4 separate regions of the Homo sapiens genome follow, and all the other regions are reported to be linked to region 1. The links are microRNA targets in miRTarBase. Many come from high-throughput screens and were not tested one by one. Region 1 holds a microRNA gene; each other region holds the end of a gene's coding sequence.

Region 1 (4,580 bases):
AACTTAAAAAACTAATCTCCATGTTCTACCTAGGAAAAGGTTAAACAAGAGGCAGAAATAAAGCAGAAAAAGATCTAACATTCGAGTTTAAAAAATTCTAATATAAAGCAAAATAAAATAAGTCAGATCACAAAAAAAGATGTATACAGAAACATGAACTGTAAGAAACTTAATGGCAATTCGGTGCTGGTTTACAAATACAGTAATGTTAGAATTTTAAAACTAAGTTAGATGACTTCAATTTTAAGCTTTTTGATATGGGGATTTGTGTACTTTGGACTTCAACTATGAACTAAAGCAATTTAAAAAGAAAAACTTAAAGTAACTTTAAAGGAAAAAGTAATCTCTAGCACTTCAAATCTGTGCTATTATCTGGACTTTGATTTCCTTTAATTCATATAGACTGTTAAACTAAATATGCAATACAATTCTGAAAAATGTTCATAATAACAGTATCTAAAATCCAAGAACAGTTGAAAGAATAGTTCAACTGCCCCACAACCAAGAAGGGAAGAAAGAACCCCTACACGCCTTTCCATACCTCTGCTTCTTTTTCCCCAAATAGGAAAAATAAGAGTGCTTTCCAAGACAGGCTATGAGGTTGAGCAATTTGATTCTTTTCCATTTCATCATTTCCAGCCTGTCTACAATTGTACTTAAGTTCTTATGATAGTATGGTTCTAGTCTGAGAGGTTTACTCATCTATTCATTTTTACAACATGCATCTTAAATAACTGGCACAAGAATTACAACAATATATAAAAACTGGCACTGAAAAAAATGAAAAAACCAGAACCCAGAGTAATGACACAGTCAGTGCAATAGAAAAAATATAGAGGATAGTTCAGACAAAAATATGGCATCAGAAATATAGGGGAATGTTCAAGGGTTTTTCTCTAAAATTCCTTAAGCTTACAATTAAATTAACCCAAAATTTACCTTGCATTAGTATCAGGGAAGAAACAGCTTTCAAATGTTACGAAATTAAACTACCAAAAAAGTTCAGGCACAGTGGTTCACACCTGTAATCCTGGAACTTTGGGAGGCTGAGGCTGGCAGATCACTTAAGGTCAGGAGTTTGAGACCAGACCAGCTTGGCCAACATGGTGAAACCCCATTTCTACTGAAAGTACAAAAATTAGCAGGGTGTGGGGGCGCACACTTGTAATCCCAGCTACTTAAGAGACTGAGGTGGGAGGACTGCTTGAACCCAGGAGGCGGAGGCTGCAGTGAGCCCCAAGACTGTGCCACGCACTCCAACCTAGGTGACAGAGCGAGACTCCGTCTCAAAAAAACAAAAAACAAAAGAAACACTGCAGCCCATTTCACCTCCACCCTCTACCTCAAGTTCCATGACAGTGTGACCCACAAGCCCTCTGTGTACATAATATACCACAACGAACAAGTCAGCTTACCTCGTGTTCCGAAAAAAGTGCTTTCAACTGCCCCTTGGACCAATAATCCAAAGCATATGCCAAAAGCCGCATGGCGATCGTATTAATTCTCAAGAAATTTCCAACAAATACCACCTGGTTAATGTTCTGAGCACACCAAAAAAAGGCAATTAGTTTTCATCTTAATTTCTATTTTCTCATAAAAGCTACCCCAAATACAGCACCATGTGCATAGCTCTTAGCAACAATTTGACTGCTGATCAAATTTAGTCCAGTTGGTCCAGGGCTACTTAAACTTGATCCCCAGACAACTCTGGACCCACTGCAAAGCATGCTAGATAATGTCACAGGAGAAGAAAACAGATTAGGAAAAACATTTGTATTAAATCTGACCAACAATAACTAGTTTTGAATACAATGTTTTATACAGATAAGTTAAAATAAACAAAAAAAAACAGTATGACTCCAATCCAAAAGGACAGTGACACAAACAGGCAAAGTATACAAGCAATATAACAGGCAGCGAAAAATTCAAACCACTAGTCATCAAACAAAAGTAAAATTTTAGACCTATTAACCTCGCAAAAAAAAGCAACTGAAATTCCACCACCACCATCAGTAGTTGTAGTAAAATTAATCCACTCATTCACCGCTAAAGATGATCTAAATTGGTGCAGCCCTTGTGCAAAGCATCATGACGATAAATGTCAAAATTCATGAGCATGATCATTTCTGTAGACCAGAAATCTCACTCCTAAGCCCCATATCAAGAATAAAATTCAACCAAAGAATAACTTCATGCTTAAAAATGCTTACTGCCGAGTTATGAGCAAGCAACCAAATGCCAAGCTCTGTTATTTGATATAAAAGAACTTGATCAAATAAATATACAACCATGAAATGTATATTTAAGTATAAAATACAAATTGTGGTATGCACACCAACTAAAATTTCTGAAAATACGTAAGCACAGGAAAGGGAACATACAATAAAGAAAAAAGAAGTTATGATATTCCAACAAATGTTTAATTACTTGATGCTGATACAGTATTTTTTTAATTTAAAATGAGACAAATCCTTTGTGTCTTTTGAGGTTTCCTTTTAAGCTACATGCCTATTATTATCTAAAGAATAACTTCTTAAAAATAAAAATAAAAGAATAATTTAACAACTATACACACAGGGACAAGCCATAAGCTGCACCAACTGGATCCTAGATCCTCTTTTCCCAAGGGCAGCCCATTCTTGGTTCTTTCATAGCCCTGTACAATGCTGCTTGACCTGAATGCTACAAGGCAGCACTGTAAAGAAGCTGAAAGCACAAAGACGCAGCTCTGCTGAGGTGGGGGAGCCAAGGAGGGCACCCCTCGGCCTGCTCAGTCTTCTCCCAGCTTCCGTGACTTCCTCTGGATTCCTCCCTAGGGCCTCTAGAGCTCAGCAGTGAGTGTGGAGTCTACATTCAGCATCGTTATCCATCATCACCCCCAACAGTCCCCAATATCTGGAACACTGGCTACCTTCCACTCTTCCTCTACTTTCTCCTCAAAAGATGTCATTTTACCTCTAGACAAGTAGCAATGTTTATCTTCAGTTTAAAAAAAAAAAAAAGAAGATTAATCTGTATTTGAAGAGTTTTAACTTCGTGCTAAAACAAACCCCACCCCAAATGACTACATTTAGGCACTGTTCTGAGAAAACAGACGTGATGGGGCCCACTTAAGTTCAGTATTTTCCTTAGAGCAATTAAAGAAATCCATGTCCCCTTACTTCATTAAGGGCACACATTCTTGCTATTGAGCCAATGTTGTTGGTGATGGTGATCAAAGTCGCTCTGGCCAGGTCCTCTTTACTGACAGCCTCTCGCTTCTCCTTGCTCATCATGTTTCCAAAGCTGTGATGGGGGAAAAAAAATCCCATTGCTAAACCAACAGCAACAAAGCCCAACAGAACTTGAATGTTACTTTATTGAAATAAAATTAGCTTTTAGGGCAACATTGTTGAAATCTTCAAACCTTTTATTTTGCAATGGAGCATCTGTTCAAAGAGAAATGCAAACTTCAAACAGAGCCCTCCAACATTCTAAATGAGCAGACAGCTTTCCCTGCGGTTTCTACTGAAATCTAGCTTGGATACCAGATATTCACATATTCAGTTAGAATCTCATCAGATGCACTGGAAGGCACCATTGCTCCTGCAACCAGACAGTTCCAGGACAACACCTCTAACAGCAATTCATCTCAACTGCACAGCTGTTCCACTCAGATGGCCACATGCACATCTGGTAAACTGCTCTATCAGAGCAGAGTAAAGCACAGACAGCTGAGTCCCAGAGTGAGCTGCTTAAGAATTTCAGGTTTCCCTAGAAGATAAAGTACTTCAAAGTACATGCTCAGCAGAACTGCTACAATAATTTTCCAATCAGAAAAGGAAGTGATGACCAACGAGCAAATGTTACAAACAGAAAATCAACAGCATTGACCAAGTGCCTAAAACTTAGTAAACAAGCATGTATACATATGATTTTTCTATTAGTAAAAGCCATGTGCCCCAATATACGAAAAACAATTGTACTTCTAAACGATCTCAAAATGGAGACAATGATTTCATTTATAATAGCATTAGAGAATAAAACACTTACGGATATATCTAACAAAAGTATTAACACCTGTACAATAAAATCTACAAAACACTGCTGAAAGAAAGCAAAGATCTAAATCAATGGGAAGACATTCCATCTTTTTGGATCAGAAGACTTTGTATTAGGATGGCCAAAAGATTCAATGTAATCTCTATTAAAATCCCAGTTGTCTTATTTACAGACCTTGCCAAGTTAACCCTACAATTCATATTCTCAAGGTACCCAGAATAGCCAAAATAATCTCGAAAAAAGAACAAGTTGGATGACTCACACTTTCTTACTTCAGAACTTAATACAACGCTACAGTATCAAGGCAGTATGGTACTGGTATAAAAACAGACATATATATCAATGGAACATAACTTAAGAGTCCAGGAGTAAACCCAAACATCTATGGTCAACTAATTTTTGACAAAGGGGCCAAGAGAATTTAACAGGGAAAGAATCATCTTTTCAACAAATGGTACTAGGACAACTGGATATCCACACGCAAAAAGAAATGAACTTGGAGCTCTACCTCACACCATACACAAAAACTTACTCAAAAT
Region 2 (4,580 bases), not on the chromosome of region 1:
GTGAAACTCTTTTTTTAAAATTTCAGCAGGGAGTAAAGGAATAACCCCCACACTTAGAGTTAGAAACCCTAAGTTCAACCTCTGGCTCTGCCTCTTACTTGTCTTCATGGGCCAGTTGCTTCTCATTTTTTGCTTATAAAATGAAAAGATTGGACTAGATCCTCTTTTACAGCCCCCTTGCAGCTCTAAGAATCTTTGAGGGGGCATTTCAGGAGGTCAACAAACATCTGGGCATTAGTGAAGTGGGGGTCACATGGCTAGTAAGTGGTCACTCAGATGCAAATTCATTCTGACTTTGGTGATTATTCTGACACCACACCACTGTCTCCCTGTTGCCTCTGCTAGCACAGCCAGTCATTGTCTCTTACAGCCTCACTGCTCACAGCATTGCCCAAGGACCAGCAGAGCAGGCATTACCTGGGAGCTTGTAAGGAATGCAAAATCCCAGCCCTCACCCCAGACCCACTAACTCAGTTTAATAGAGGAGCCTAATAAACCACCTGTCCACAGAAACGGTGATTCATGTCTACTTTTCTTTGTTTGCATATTTCAGATTTGAATTTGGCCAGGAAACATCCCAAACTCTGAAGCTTGAAAATGCCTTGTATTTTGATCGAAAATACCTTTTTGCAAATTCCAAAACTTACTTCAATCTAGCTGTAGATGAAAAGGGCCTTTGGATTATCTATGCGTCAAGTGTGGACGGCTCGAGCATTCTTGTAGCACAACTGGATGAGAGGACATTCTCAGTGGTGCAACACGTCAATACCACGTACCCTAAATCCAAGGCTGGCAACGCCTTCATTGCCCGAGGAATCCTCTATGTCACAGACACCAAAGATATGAGGGTCACATTTGCCTTTGATTTGTTAGGAGGGAAACAGATCAATGCAAACTTTGATTTAAGAACTTCCCAGTCTGTTCTTGCCATGTTAGCATACAACATGAGAGATCAGCATTTATATTCATGGGAAGATGGCCATTTAATGCTTTATCCTGTGCAGTTTTTGTCAACTACCTTAAATCAGTGATGTGCTGCATTCGGCTCCCTTCAGCAAATTTCAGGGGTTTTCTGGGACCAGTTCTCCCCCAACAGGAAACTTGTTTTTTTAACGTCAGCCAGATATTTAGAAAATAACCTCAAAAGTGTTTATATGGTCAGTGAGCCCCGCTTAGTGAAATAGCAACAGATTGGAAGTTGAAATGGCTGAGATTTGGTGATCTCCCCACAGCTGGCTCTGCAAGTTACCTCTTTCTCCTTGGGCCTTAGTTTCCCCATTGGTAATCTGAATTGGCTAAGATGATTGGGGAGATTTTCTGTACCTGTAGGTAATTTGGTGATTCTTGGTGGCTGCTCTTCTCACAACTTTTATGTATCTGCTTCTGTCGTTTAGCTTTTTTAGCCACATGCTGACCAAATTTACCTTTGAGTTGATAAGTCCAGTGGCTTGAGTAGTGAATCCCTCAGTGCTGACTTATATCTTGTTCTTTGAAAAAATGCATTGACTCTTTAAGACATCTAAAGTATCACATTATCCATAATTTATTGCTTTTCTTTGCATCTGCACCTGCCACCACAGAATAACCATTACCCTCAGCTGCTGATTGGGCAGCTCTGAGATTAGCAAAAGCCAGGGACAGCTACATGTTCAGGTTTTTTTTTTTTTTTTTTTTTCAATAAGCTATTTTTTTTCTTTTCTTATTTTAAATAGAGAGAGAGTCTTGCTATGTTTCCCAGGCTGGTCTTGAACTCCTGGGGCTCAAGTGATCCTCCTGCCTTGGCCTCCCAAAATGCTGGATTACAGGCATGTGTGCCTGGCCCAGGTTTCTTAATAAAACAGAATCATGATCTTCCAGGTTCCCCCCAGTTTCTGATCATGTTGATTTGTAGCTGTGGATCATGAACACTGAATCCTCAGATCACTCTGACTTCTTATGCTTCTCCTGTGGATCCACTATCAAAGTACTAAATGCTGTGTAAGTAGACGTTAATCTGGCTGGAACCATGGGAAGCACTTTGCAGTGTTCAGAAGAGAGGCTCCATTTGTGGCTATTATGTAGAACTGGGCCAGAGCCAGTCCATTGCCTGTTTTTTTAAATAAGGTTTTACTGAGCACAGCCACACTCATTTGTTTATGCAGTACGGCCTGACATTGCTTTTGCTCTGCAACAGCAGAGTCGAGTCATTGCAACAAAGAGCATATGGCCCCACAGTGCCTAAAATATTGACCAGCTACCCCTTTATGGAAAAAGATTGCTGACTCCTGATAAAGAATATAAAGTGAGCCTGATTCTTGAAAAAATCAGAACCAGAGCCTGTTTTGTTTTGTTCTAAACTAAGAAGCCGCATAGGATGTGACTTGCGTTTTGAGTAGAGGGGAAGGCTGATAACGGCGTAAGATGAAGTGGCCCTCCACAAAGGCTGGTTAGGGGACAGTTCTTTCTCTAACATAGTTTTAAAGGATGTGATCTGGTCCCCTTGGATGCCAGGAGAGAATCCAGTTGAACTTGCTCCTAAATGCTCTTAAATATGCATATTTTCTGCCAACTCACTTCTTTAAACATCTTTCAGCCCAGCGCTGCGGCCCCGGGAAGGGCCACTGCGAATAGAGAGGAAGCTGGAAAAGTTCCTGGGGCTCTGCAGCCAGGAAGGGGAACCAGGGCAAATCTTATGTAAAGATTTTTCAGCAACTTGTCCCAATTTGTGTGTATTCTGAAACTTTCTCTTTGGGACCAAATTCATTCTCAATGGCCCTGAGTTCAATATATTATTAACAGCAGTATTTTAAAACTTAGGGTTGAACTGGGCATGGTGGCACATAACTGCAATCCCAGCTACTTTGGAGGCAGGGATGGGAGGATCACTTGAGGCCAGGATCTCAGGACCAGCCTAGAGAGATCCCATCTCTAAAAAATAAAATATAAGAAAATAAAACTTAGGGGATATACAGATTTAAATATTCAAATCTCCCTGCTCCCCTGAAAGTCCCCAGGCAGCTGTCAATGACTTGTTTGTTGTGTTCTCAATATGATGGCTATTTGAAACTTCACCTACTTTTCATTAGATTGGTTGTACCATGTCACCTTAGCTTTTAAAAATACTCTTTTCAGATTCACGTTCTCTAACAAAGAGTCTCATGTTCAAGATCAATATGTCTAATAAGTGCTGGTGTCCTTTTAAAGTATTTAAATATATATGTTGCTGTTGCTGAATACAGGAGACCAGGTTAGGAATATAGTTTCATAATAATAGTACATACAATACTAATTGTATATAAGGTAGCAACCAAAAGAGGTTGTTAATTAGCACATATTCCTTTTAGAAAAATGTTTCAGAAACCTCAGTCTTGATATCTGAGCTATCTGGGCTCCCTTACTTGTGAGTAAGGGATCATGCTCACCACTGGAGAAGCTTACACCGGGACTTTTTTTCTTTTTTCTTTTTTTTTTGCTATGACAGAGTAATGCTAACGTAAGGACAACTGAGTTTGATCAGTGTTTAATCGCAGTGGGTAATCTTATCTGATTGTCTTTAAAAGTGAAAAGGATTAAGATTTTATTCTTTCTTGTAAACATTACTTGATTTTTTAAAGAAGTTTTGGGCTCACTGCTAAAATAGAGTATACAACTGAATGTTTTTAAGTCAAGATACTGTTTTAGGAGTTTACCCTCTCATTTATAACCAAAGTTGCTCTAAAACACTTTCCAAATATCTGCACTTCTGATGTCAGAATCAAACCAGATAATTCTCTAATTCTTCTTTAATCTAAAGTAGATAGCTTCCCACTGGAAAGTAAACAAAACCATCCCTCCCAACCTCAAAGCTAGGCCACACTCTATTTCAAGGCATTTTCTTTCAGCTGATAAGGTGTCCTCCTGAAGCCAAGTAGGTGGTTCTGGTCTCCAAGTATCGTTAAGCACAGGTGCTATGACAGAAAAAGTTCTGGGGTGGAAGTTTTAAGATGAGGAGTTCTGATCTTAGGCATCTTAACAGTCACAAGGTGAAAAGTCAAATGAAACAGTACAATTCTTGATGAGTGAGGTGTCATCTTCCAACCACACAGAGGACGTTTTGGCTATGATCATCTGATGGCAAGTGAAGGAGAAATGAGTGATAGGGCTTTGCGTTTTCATCCAGATGCTGTGGCCCTGTGTTTCACAGCATTAAGAGCCATAATTTCCAACCTGCACAGATCCTGAACAACAAATGAATAACGATGAATGTCTTTTTGGTTGTAATTTAACAAGTCAAATAAAATAATCATTGCTGAGCACAATCACATGTTGAAACAAGTGTGTTGTTATTTTTACCTCTTGTTAATGTATACGTAACATTTAAAAGAAAAAATCCAAAACAATATTGTGGTAGAATTATATTAGTTGCTCCTCTGTGGAAACTCAATTTGCTAGCTCCTTCTGAATACAGTACTGAAAAATTGTTGATATGGACTGTCTCTTCTCTATAAGAAAACATGAGCGATGGAAATCTAGTACTAGAACTGGGTTATACGTAGACATAAATGCAATCAAGCTTTGCCAATTCATCAGCATGGGCAAGGCAATTGAGGACATAATATTTG
Region 3 (4,580 bases), not on the chromosome of region 1:
TGAGAGCTTCCAGGTTGGTGAACACAAGTAGATACTAAGAGGGTAACACACCCCGAGAAGAGCATGGAAGCGCTGTGCCCCTCTCTCAGACTTTGCCCTATGCATCTCCTCCATTTGGTTGTTCCTGAGTTGTAACCTTTATAATAGCCCATAGTAATAAATAAAGTGCTTTCCTAAGTTCTATGAGCCATTTTTGAAAATTATTGAACAGAGCTGGGGGGCATGAAAAATCCCAAATTATATCATGGTTAGTCAGATAGTACAGATCACAATCGGGACTTGGAACTGGCATCCGAAGTGGTAGGGGCTGTCTTGTGGGATTAACCGGGGTCTCTGTTCACTCCTTGTAGTTAGTGTCACAATTAAATTATAGGGCCAGGTGTGGGGGCATGCATTTGTAGTCCCAGTGAGATCCTGTCTTTAAAAAATTAAATAAAATTTTGAAAAAATAATCAAGTTGTGGGATACCCAGAGAATTGGAGAACTGGGAAAACCCACACATTTGGTGTTGGAAGTATGAAAGTGTAGAAAAACAGTTTGTTTTCCCTTTAACTGGTTATATTAGTCCCATTTGTAGCTGTTCTCTGTCACTGTATGAATGGGGTAGAATATAATTTTAGGTACTATGGTGGAAATATTCCTACCCTTTGTATTGTTGACTAAGGGCATAAAAGTAAATTATTTCTGAATTTTGATCCATATCTATGATGGAAAATCAACATTTTGTTGTACATTCAACTAGAGAACTCAGAGATCTGTAAGACTTGATTATTTTTTAAGGAGACTGTAATTGTCATAGATATGGATATCATGTTTCAATTTAAGGAAATTTTCATATGTTATGTTGTTTCTCTTTCAGGGTAATAGATGGTCTGGAAACTCTAGATGAGTTGGAGAAGTTGCCAGTAAATGAGAAGACATACCGACCTCTTAATGATGTACACATTAAGGACATAACTATTCATGCCAACCCATTTGCTCAGTAGCTATGATAGACCTGGACAAATAACTTGACAAATTGCTGGAACACACTTATTGTGGTTTACCCGGTTTTAATTATGTCAGAGATTGCATCATCCTTCTGCTTGTTTACAACTATGATCTTCTATGAAATGGTGGTACCAAGGGGCGCCCAACAGCTTTTATCCCCATTCTTAGAGCATATTCTTTATTATAATGATTATCCAACATATTTCTTTAATTTTAATACAAAAAATACATCATTTAATTTTTGTTACATATGAACATTCATTTTTAAATGCTCAGCCTCAAGTGCAGGCATTTTTGAGTGGCCTGATTACATATTCCTCCCACAGCAAGTCCGTATCCTGGAAGTGTTATTTTATAATAAAATTTAAAAAGTTTTAAAGAATTAAATCGTAGGACAAATTAATTAAAATATTGTGTAAAATTACCTTCAGGCTATGTGTATAAGGTATATATGAAACGTAAATGAACTTCATGTTTAAATTTGGGTCTCATCTCCAAGATATCTTATTATGTATATGCAAGTATCCCCAAATCTGAAAATTTGGGTATTCCTGAAACTGATACTAACGGTAAGAGCTCTACCATTAATTATTCACTTTATACAGTTAGAAAGAGGAGGGACAGGATAAAAAGTTAGTCTGGAAAGGCCAGCCAATCCATTTGCTATTTTCTCTGATTTTTTTTTTTTTCTTTTTGAGACGGAGTCTTGCTCTTTTACCCGGGCTGGAGTGCAGCGGGTCACTGCAACCCCTGCCTCCCAGGTTCAAGTGATTCTCCTGCCTCAGCCTCCCAAGTAGCTGGGACTACAGGTGCACACCACCATGCCCAGCTACTTTTTGTATTTTTTTTTTCAGTAGAGACGGGGTTTACAGAGACCATGTTGGCCAGGATGGTCTTGATCTTTTGACCTCATGATCTGCCCACCTCGGCCTCCCAAAGTGCTGGGATTACAGGTGTGATCTTTAGGTTTACAGTAAAGGCTCTCAGAGGTCCTGGAGGCCGAGTGTGGTGGCTGACGCCTATAATCCCAGCACTTTGGGAGGCCAAGATGGGCAGATCACGAGATCAGGAGATCAAGACCATCCTGGCTAACATGGTGAAACCCTGTCTCTACTAAAAATATAAAAAATTAGCTGGGCATGGTGGCGGGTGCCTGTAGTCCCAGCTACTTGGGAGGCTGAGGCAGGAGAATCACTTGAACCCGGGAGGCAGAGGTTGTAGTGAGCCAAGATCGAGCCATTGCACTCCAGCCTGGGTGACAGTGGGAGACTCCATCTCAAAAAAAAAAAAAAAAAAAAGATGTCTTGGAATACAGTAAACACTCAACATTTCCCAACTGATTTGCTCATGGACTTTTTTTTTTTTTTTTGAGACATAGTCTCACTCTTGTCACTCAGGCTGGAGTGCAATGGCACAATCTCGTCTCACTGCAACCTCCGCCTCCCGGGCTCAAGTGATTCTCCTGCCTCAGCCTCCCGAGTAGCTGGGATTACAGGCATCTGCCACCATGCCTAGCTATTGTTTTTTTGTGTTTTTAGTAGAGACAGGGTTTCACCATGTTGGCCAGGCTGGTCGTGAGCTCCTGACCTCAGGTGATCCGTCCACCTTGGCCGCCCAAAGTGCTGGGATTACAGGCGTGAGCCACCACACCCGGCCTGCTCATGGACATTTTTTAAGGCATATCTTTTTTTTTTTTAATTTTAGATTCAGCAGGTACATGTGCAGGTTTGTTACAAGTGTATAATGCATGGTGCTGAGGTTTGGGCTTCTACTGATCCTGTCACCCAGACAGTGAACATAGTGCCCAAAAGGAAGCTTTTCAGCCCTTGCCCCTGCCCCTTCCTCCTTTTTTGGAGTCCCCAGTGTCCACTGTTCCCATCTTTTTGTCCATGTGAATCCAAGATTTAGCTCCCATTTATTGTAACTGAATGCAGGCTGGGCTGCACGCCACTTGCAAAGTCAACAACAAGGAGGAGATGCAGGAAAAGGAAAGTGACTTTATTCCAGAGCTAGCAGTGGGGAAATGGCCAAAGCTAGTACCTTAAAGAAATCATTTTGAACTTTAGGCTGGGGAGAGGTGCTTAAAAAGGGAACTTAGAATGGGAGGCATGCGGGAGTGGTGCAGGGTTTCAGATCTCTGTGGCTTGCTGTAGTGGCTATCTTGAGTTGTGGTCCACCTGGAGTGGGGGCTGGCATCATCTCAACAATGGCTGGGTTGTTGACTAACCACCTTAAGGTAATCTCTGGAATTTTGCAGCTGGGTCTCCAAGCCTGGTATATGTCATGATTAGCCCTTGATGGGCCAGGCACAGTGGCTCACACCTATAATCGCAGCACTTTGGGGAGGCCAAGGTGGGAGGATCACCTGAGCCCAGGAGTTTTAGATCGGCCTGGGCAACGTAGTGAGACCTTGAATCTACTAAAAATTGAAAAAAAAAAAAAAAAAAAAAAAAAGCCGGATGTGGTAGCCCCAGCTACTTAAAAGGCTGAGGTGGGAGGATTGCTTGAGCTAGGGAAGTAGAGACTGCAGTGATCCATGGTCGTGCCACTGGACTCCAGCCTGGGCAAGAGAGTTAAGACCCTATAGATAAGAGTGTATAGTGTAAGTTTAACAAGTGTACAGTTAGATAAATGTGCATAGTATAAGGGAGTGTGAGGCGGGAAAGGGAGGGAAACGGTTTTAACAAGACTACATTCTGAAATTAAGAAAGAAAGGGCCAGGCACGGTGGCTCACGCCTGTAATCCCAGCACTTTGGGAGGCTGAGGCAGGCGGATCATGAGGTCAAGAGATCGAGACCATCCTGGCCAACATGGTGAAACCCCGTCTCTACTAAAAATACAAAAATTAGCTGGCCGTGGTGGCACGCGCCTGTAGTCCCAGCTACTTGAGAGGCTGAGGCAGGAGAATTGCTTGAACCTGGGAGGCAGAGGTCGCAGTGAGCCGAGATTGCACCACTGCACTCCAGCGTGGAAACAGAGACTTCTGTCTCAAAAAAAAAAGGAAAAAAAAAACTTTAAAATGCATTTCAAGGCTAGGATACTTGGTTATATTACAAGTGAGAACATAAGGCATATCTCTGAAAATATTGAAGAGTGGAGCTTTACAGAATATCCATTTGAAAAATGCAATGAACTAGTTAAAGGCACCAGTTTGTGGAGTTCTGGTCTGTGTTTGAATCACAGCTGTGTCCCTTACAGTGTAACTTTAAGCAAGTTAACATCTTCAAGCTTTAGTATTCTCATCCATAAATAATACCTCAGAAGACAATTGTGAGGGTTAAATGTGTGTAAAGCTTCTGGCATGTAGTAAGTAAGTAGAAGCTGCTGTCCTAACATTCATGTCCACCACAGGGCTCTCACCTCATCAAGCCATTCATTGGGTTCTACCACTGATTTCATCAAGACCATATTCTGCCCACTGCCTAGATCACAGTGGTTGGATTTGGGTGTTCCTAAAACTTATACCAGCCGAGCGTAGTGGCTCATGCCTGTAATTCCAGCCCTTTGGGAGGCCAAGGCGGGCAGATCACCTGAGGTTGGGAGTTCGAGACCAGCCTGACCAACATACAGAAAACCTGTCTCTATTAAA
Region 4 (4,580 bases), not on the chromosome of region 1:
GAGTGGATAAATACATGGGATGGATGTCATGTGGGACAAATACTAAAGGAAATATTCAGATGGGCAGAAAAGAAACTGAAGCAATTTTGCTTTGTGTTTTGAATGCATTCTCTTTTTCTCAAGATACGTGATGAACTGATTACCTTTGAACGCTTTTTGCACTGATGAACTATTCTTCCTTTGAATGCAAATTTGTGCTGGTACTCGACCAAAAGTCGTACTTTATATGGGTTACATTAACATAAGGTTTTTAAGAGTCTGCACATCTGTACATTTAATCAGGTTGCATAATAATCTTGCAAGAAAGACAGGACAAAAATTGTTTTTCTTTTCCAAAATTGCAAATTGAGACTCAAGGAGGTTGAAGTGATTTTCCCAAGATAACACAGTGGGGATTTAAAGCTGTGTCAGCTTGTATTTTTTTCATTACTCCATAGGGCCTCTCTAAAATCAAAAATGCTTGGATATGCCCAAGAGCTACCAAATCTTGTTTCTTTCCTCTTCTTCCCTTTTCTTCAAGGACAACGAATTCAAATGAAACACAGCATTGTCCATTAAAATTTTCTTCAACCACGGAAGTGTTTCTTGTTATCCAATATGGTAGCCACAAGCCAGGCGTGGCTATTGAGCCTTTGAAATGTGGCTGGTGTGACTGAAGAATTACATTTTTAATTTAATTTTAATTAATTTTAATTTCAAAAGCCACGTTGGCTAGTGGATATAATATTGGACAGCACAACTCTAGAAGCTACATATAAGAGATTGGCAAATGCCCTTGATACCTCAAACTAAAATAGTAATTGGGGGTCAATTGCACTTTTAGTTTTCTAGGTGTTAGTATATCTTGAAGTCCAAACCCTTCACACACAAGCCACCATTTATGGTCAGTGCCATCTCTTGGGCTTAAGCCATTTATGCCTGAGGTTGCAATTTTTTGAATTTTTGCAACCAGACCTTGGTGATGACCTTGAGCAGTAGGCTCTAAATAACTCCCATAAGCTTAGCGTTCCAATAATGGAACACTAGACATAAATGGGTCAAGATATTTTTCTTGAGTTTCAGTATCTTTACCTAGTCACTGATTATTATTTTTACAAATAATTAAGCTGAAATAACTAAATTCCTCTGTAGCACCATTTATCTGATTTATCCAGAAGTTTGCATCTCTTTGTTATCTTTTTTTGTTATTCTATTATGTTCATAGTATATTAAGTAATGTACAGTTGCACCTTCTCTAATACATAATTATGTAAAGTCCAAAGCATTGATGACCATTTTGAATTTTCAGAAACTGTATGTTTTCTCACATGGGAACAAGAACAAACCAGAAATATAAAATAGAATGAGAGTTTCATGAAAGAAAAGGATTTAGCCCACATTTCCCCTTACCACTAAAGAATTCACACACCACACACTTCTCACTACCTTTAACTCTTAGTTCTGTTAAGAAGTTTTCCCACACTCCAGTTTCAAGAAGTTTTCTCTATTATTTGTTGCTTTGGTTCACTGAAGAATTCAGTGTTTATGTTTTTTTACAGAATTATCAATTGTTTTGAATCAAAATAGAAAATTGATTCAAAATTGTTTTGAATCAATTGTTTTGAATCAAAATAGAACGCTGAAGGGTATAAGAATAACATTACTACTTGAGAATTAAGTAGTACTTAAGGGACACAAACTAAGAATACACATGCAAGATTTATATAACTGTCAAACAGTTGCTATTGGAAGCCACAGCTACCACAAAAGGTAGTGAAAGAAGCATCATTTTATCCTAAAAGGAAGTCGTCTATGTGTTCCTTATGCATTTGTAGAATACCAGTTGCACCAGTAATATTGGCATGTCATTTGGTTATTGCTGTCTCACCAAACCTGCTCCACAAGAATAAGTGGGGATACTTCACATAAACCATACATAGCTGCTGCAAAGAGATTGTCATCACAATCCTTCAATCACCTTGCTTTTCAAAATTTTTTTTAATAGTTAACTAAGTTAGGAAAAAGTTACCATCTTCATCAAATACTTAAAATTGTAAAGCAAAATATATGGAATAGAAAATGGCATTCGTTCACGTCAGACACTTGTGATGATAAAGTATGGTACTCTGTGAGTGGACTGATGACCAAGGCAGATGTGTACAGATGCTAAACTGTTGGGAAAATGCTGCTTATGAGACATCTCTGCTTCTTGAGACCTGAATCTGCAAATGTTGAGCACTGTACCTTACAAAAGCCAACAGTTTCTTGGCACAGAGTGTAAAAGTTTCATGGGTTAGAATGTTGGTGAAATTGTACACTCAGTACCTGAATTTAAACTTTAGGAGCTCAGTATGTATATTAACCACTTTCCTTCTCAAGGGATGCCATTCCTTTCTTCATTCATGAGGAATTTTCAAAATCAGGATTGTGATTCCAAGGCAATCGATATCTCCATTTAAGGAGCTTTCTGCATCCACTTTATTTAGCCAGAGAGGGAAGGGGTTGACATAAACGAAAAAGTGGATCAAATAGTCAAGAACATGATGGGCGCGGCAATGAACTGAACCACTTTTGCTAAGTGACAGAAAAATATTCTAATATTAAGGATTATTTTACAACTCTATGGAAGTAATGCAGTGATGCATCTTGCATCTGTTTTGCCTTGATGACAAAACGCACTCTTAGAGTCACAAGATCCTGCCTTGTGTTAGTTATAAACAAAAATATATTTATATATATATATTTATGTAACTACTATGTGCTTTAAAGAAAATTACTGTATGATTCAGCAGGGTTTTTTCATTCTTTCTATCGCCATGCTGACGTGAATGGCTTCTTAGACAGGAATCAGCAATGAAATGGGTGTTTAGTACTGAAAAGGCATAAAATTAAAAATAATCATATGTTTAAAATCCCTTAACATTTTTGTTTCAAAAATGATTAAGGAACTCTTCATACTGTTTCCTTTTGTTTCCATCAGCCCAGAGCAACTGTGGTTTCATGGGACTTAACAGTTGGGGATTGGAGGTAAGGCTTCCATAAAGCATAAATCAGATGTTTTCATGCTGAGGCAGGAAAACAGAAAGCCCCGTTTGCCACCCCCTCTTCCCAAATCCTTAGTTAATTGTTCGGAAATTTTGTCACAGCTCATAGAAAGGTCATTCATTACAAAGGAAGAGGCAGACATGGTTTGAACCTCCTGTACGGATAAAAAGATTCGTTCTGTAAAGTGATGAACTTGTTGGTACAGATGGATCTAGACCAGAAAAACAACATCCTTTTGCCACACATCTGTTTTGAAAATGTAGAAAATCTCTTATTTTGTGTTTGTTCTCACTCTTGCATGGGCTGTTTTTCTTAGCAATCTTGAGACATTCATCATTGCTCTTTTGAGTGAAAGGGTTCAGGCTTTGGAAAACAGTTATCTTTGAGACATCAGAGAACATTTGAACCAAAGGTGTCGATCCCTCATGAACTAAAGCTTTATTATGATTTTTTTTTTCTGATCCCTTTGCAACCCTGCACCTAAGCCAAAAGCATTATAATCTTGTCATACTTCAGATAAGTCCACGGGAGATGTTCCGAGTGAACTATAGATGACATTCCACTAGGGAATTCTATGTTCAGTGTAAATGGTATCTTGTATAAGTTTTAGTTTTTTGTTTACCCTTTGTTTCCTGGGCTGAGCTTGTCCAGAAATCTTGTCTTCTTCAGGCTACAGCAGCTTAGAGCTTGTTTGTGTGTGTGTTTGTTTGTTTGTCTTAAAGGTATAGGCAAAATTTTAGTCTTAACACCTGTAAACCAGTACTGGTGTTGTTCTGTCCTAGAAATTTTAGCACTGCTCTGATACAATAAAGCCTTCTTTCTCTCCAACTGGTTCAACTTCAGCATAGGCAGGATGTCCAGAGCCTCTTCTAAACTTCATCGCAGGCCATCTGCTTGGGCGTCTCTGAAACAGAAAACACAAAAATAAAAAATGTGCGTCAGGGTAAGATTCTAGCACCAGAAAAATCTATTTGCTAGCTATTTTAGATTAAATGTTGAATTAATTAACACATTAAATTATCTCTTATTATAGCTACAGTCAGAATTAAGAATTCCCCTTATCAACCCTCCAAGCCCTGTGCTTGCATTTCCAAGATGGCGCTATCTACCCCTGTCACAGGAAAGACCATTTGTCACACCTGCCCTCAAAGGATTCAGAGCTTCTCCCAAGCAAGGTTTAATGCCTTATGCATATGTCTGAAATGCTCAAATATAACTAGGCAAAAAGGAACTGTAATAGAAAATATTTTTTAATATATGGGCACAGACACTCTCTCTTCTCTACAAGTCAATACTGATATCACTTCATTTTGTTCATTAATTCACTCAAAAACTAAGGTCAAAAAATTCTGCTGTTCCTAGAAGGGTATTTTCAATTAGGCACCAGACTTCCTAGCAAATAAGCTAAAAGAAATATCACTTAATATCTTAAGAAATTATTTATTTAGTTAAGCATACCCATCTATGATTTCTTTGTGCTTGAAAATTAAAGCTGTTATATCCTAAAAATGGAATCTATTATCAGAGGGTGTGGCCAATCGTGAGCTTATGAAACA

Evidence for each region. Region 1 holds the annotated microRNA hsa-miR-103b (UCAUAGCCCUGUACAAUGCUGCU, at 2,649-2,671, shown strand). A microRNA usually pairs through its seed, bases 2 to 8, with sites in the 3' UTR of a target mRNA and lowers its output. Matches are read on the target gene's strand: a 7mer-m8 pairs with bases 2 to 8, a 7mer-A1 pairs with bases 2 to 7 and ends in A, and an 8mer does both.
Region 2: miRTarBase lists GLDN as a target of hsa-miR-103b. Seed matches in the 3' UTR shown: 7mer-A1 at 3,451-3,457, 7mer-A1 at 3,926-3,932 and 8mer at 4,075-4,082.
Region 3: the mRNA of PPIL3 is a reported target of hsa-miR-103b. Seed matches in the 3' UTR shown: 7mer-m8 at 1,421-1,427.
Region 4: the mRNA of PLXDC2 is a reported target of hsa-miR-103b. The part of its 3' UTR that is shown has no 7-base or 8-base seed match.

The regions. Positions count from the first base shown.
Region 1 is chr20:3,915,632-3,920,211 of GRCh38, reverse strand. It overlaps MIR103B2 (microRNA 103b-2), which reads left to right and starts at 2,649; the gene lies at 2,649-2,710. It overlaps PANK2 (pantothenate kinase 2), which reads right to left. Exons shown (of 7, transcript NM_001386393.1): 5 at 3,162-3,285; 6 at 1,416-1,541. It overlaps MIR103A2 (microRNA 103a-2), which reads right to left and starts at 2,718; the gene lies at 2,641-2,718.
Region 2 is chr15:51,403,724-51,408,303 of GRCh38, forward strand. It overlaps GLDN (gliomedin), which reads left to right. Exons shown (of 10, transcript NM_181789.4): 10 at 554-4,277. The coding sequence ends at 1,031. Among named protein-coding and RNA genes, the nearest start is that of GLDN, 64 kb to the left of the region's middle.
Region 3 is chr2:200,867,801-200,872,380 of GRCh38, reverse strand. PPIL3 (peptidylprolyl isomerase like 3) reads left to right here. Exons shown (of 7, transcript NM_130906.3): 7 at 860-1,474. The coding sequence ends at 986. Among named protein-coding and RNA genes, the nearest start is that of CLK1, 5.4 kb to the right of the region's middle.
Region 4 is chr10:20,279,051-20,283,630 of GRCh38, reverse strand. PLXDC2 (plexin domain containing 2) reads right to left here. Exons shown (of 14, transcript NM_032812.9): 14 at 1-3,928. The coding sequence ends at 3,812. Among named protein-coding and RNA genes, the nearest start is that of MIR4675, 270 kb to the left of the region's middle.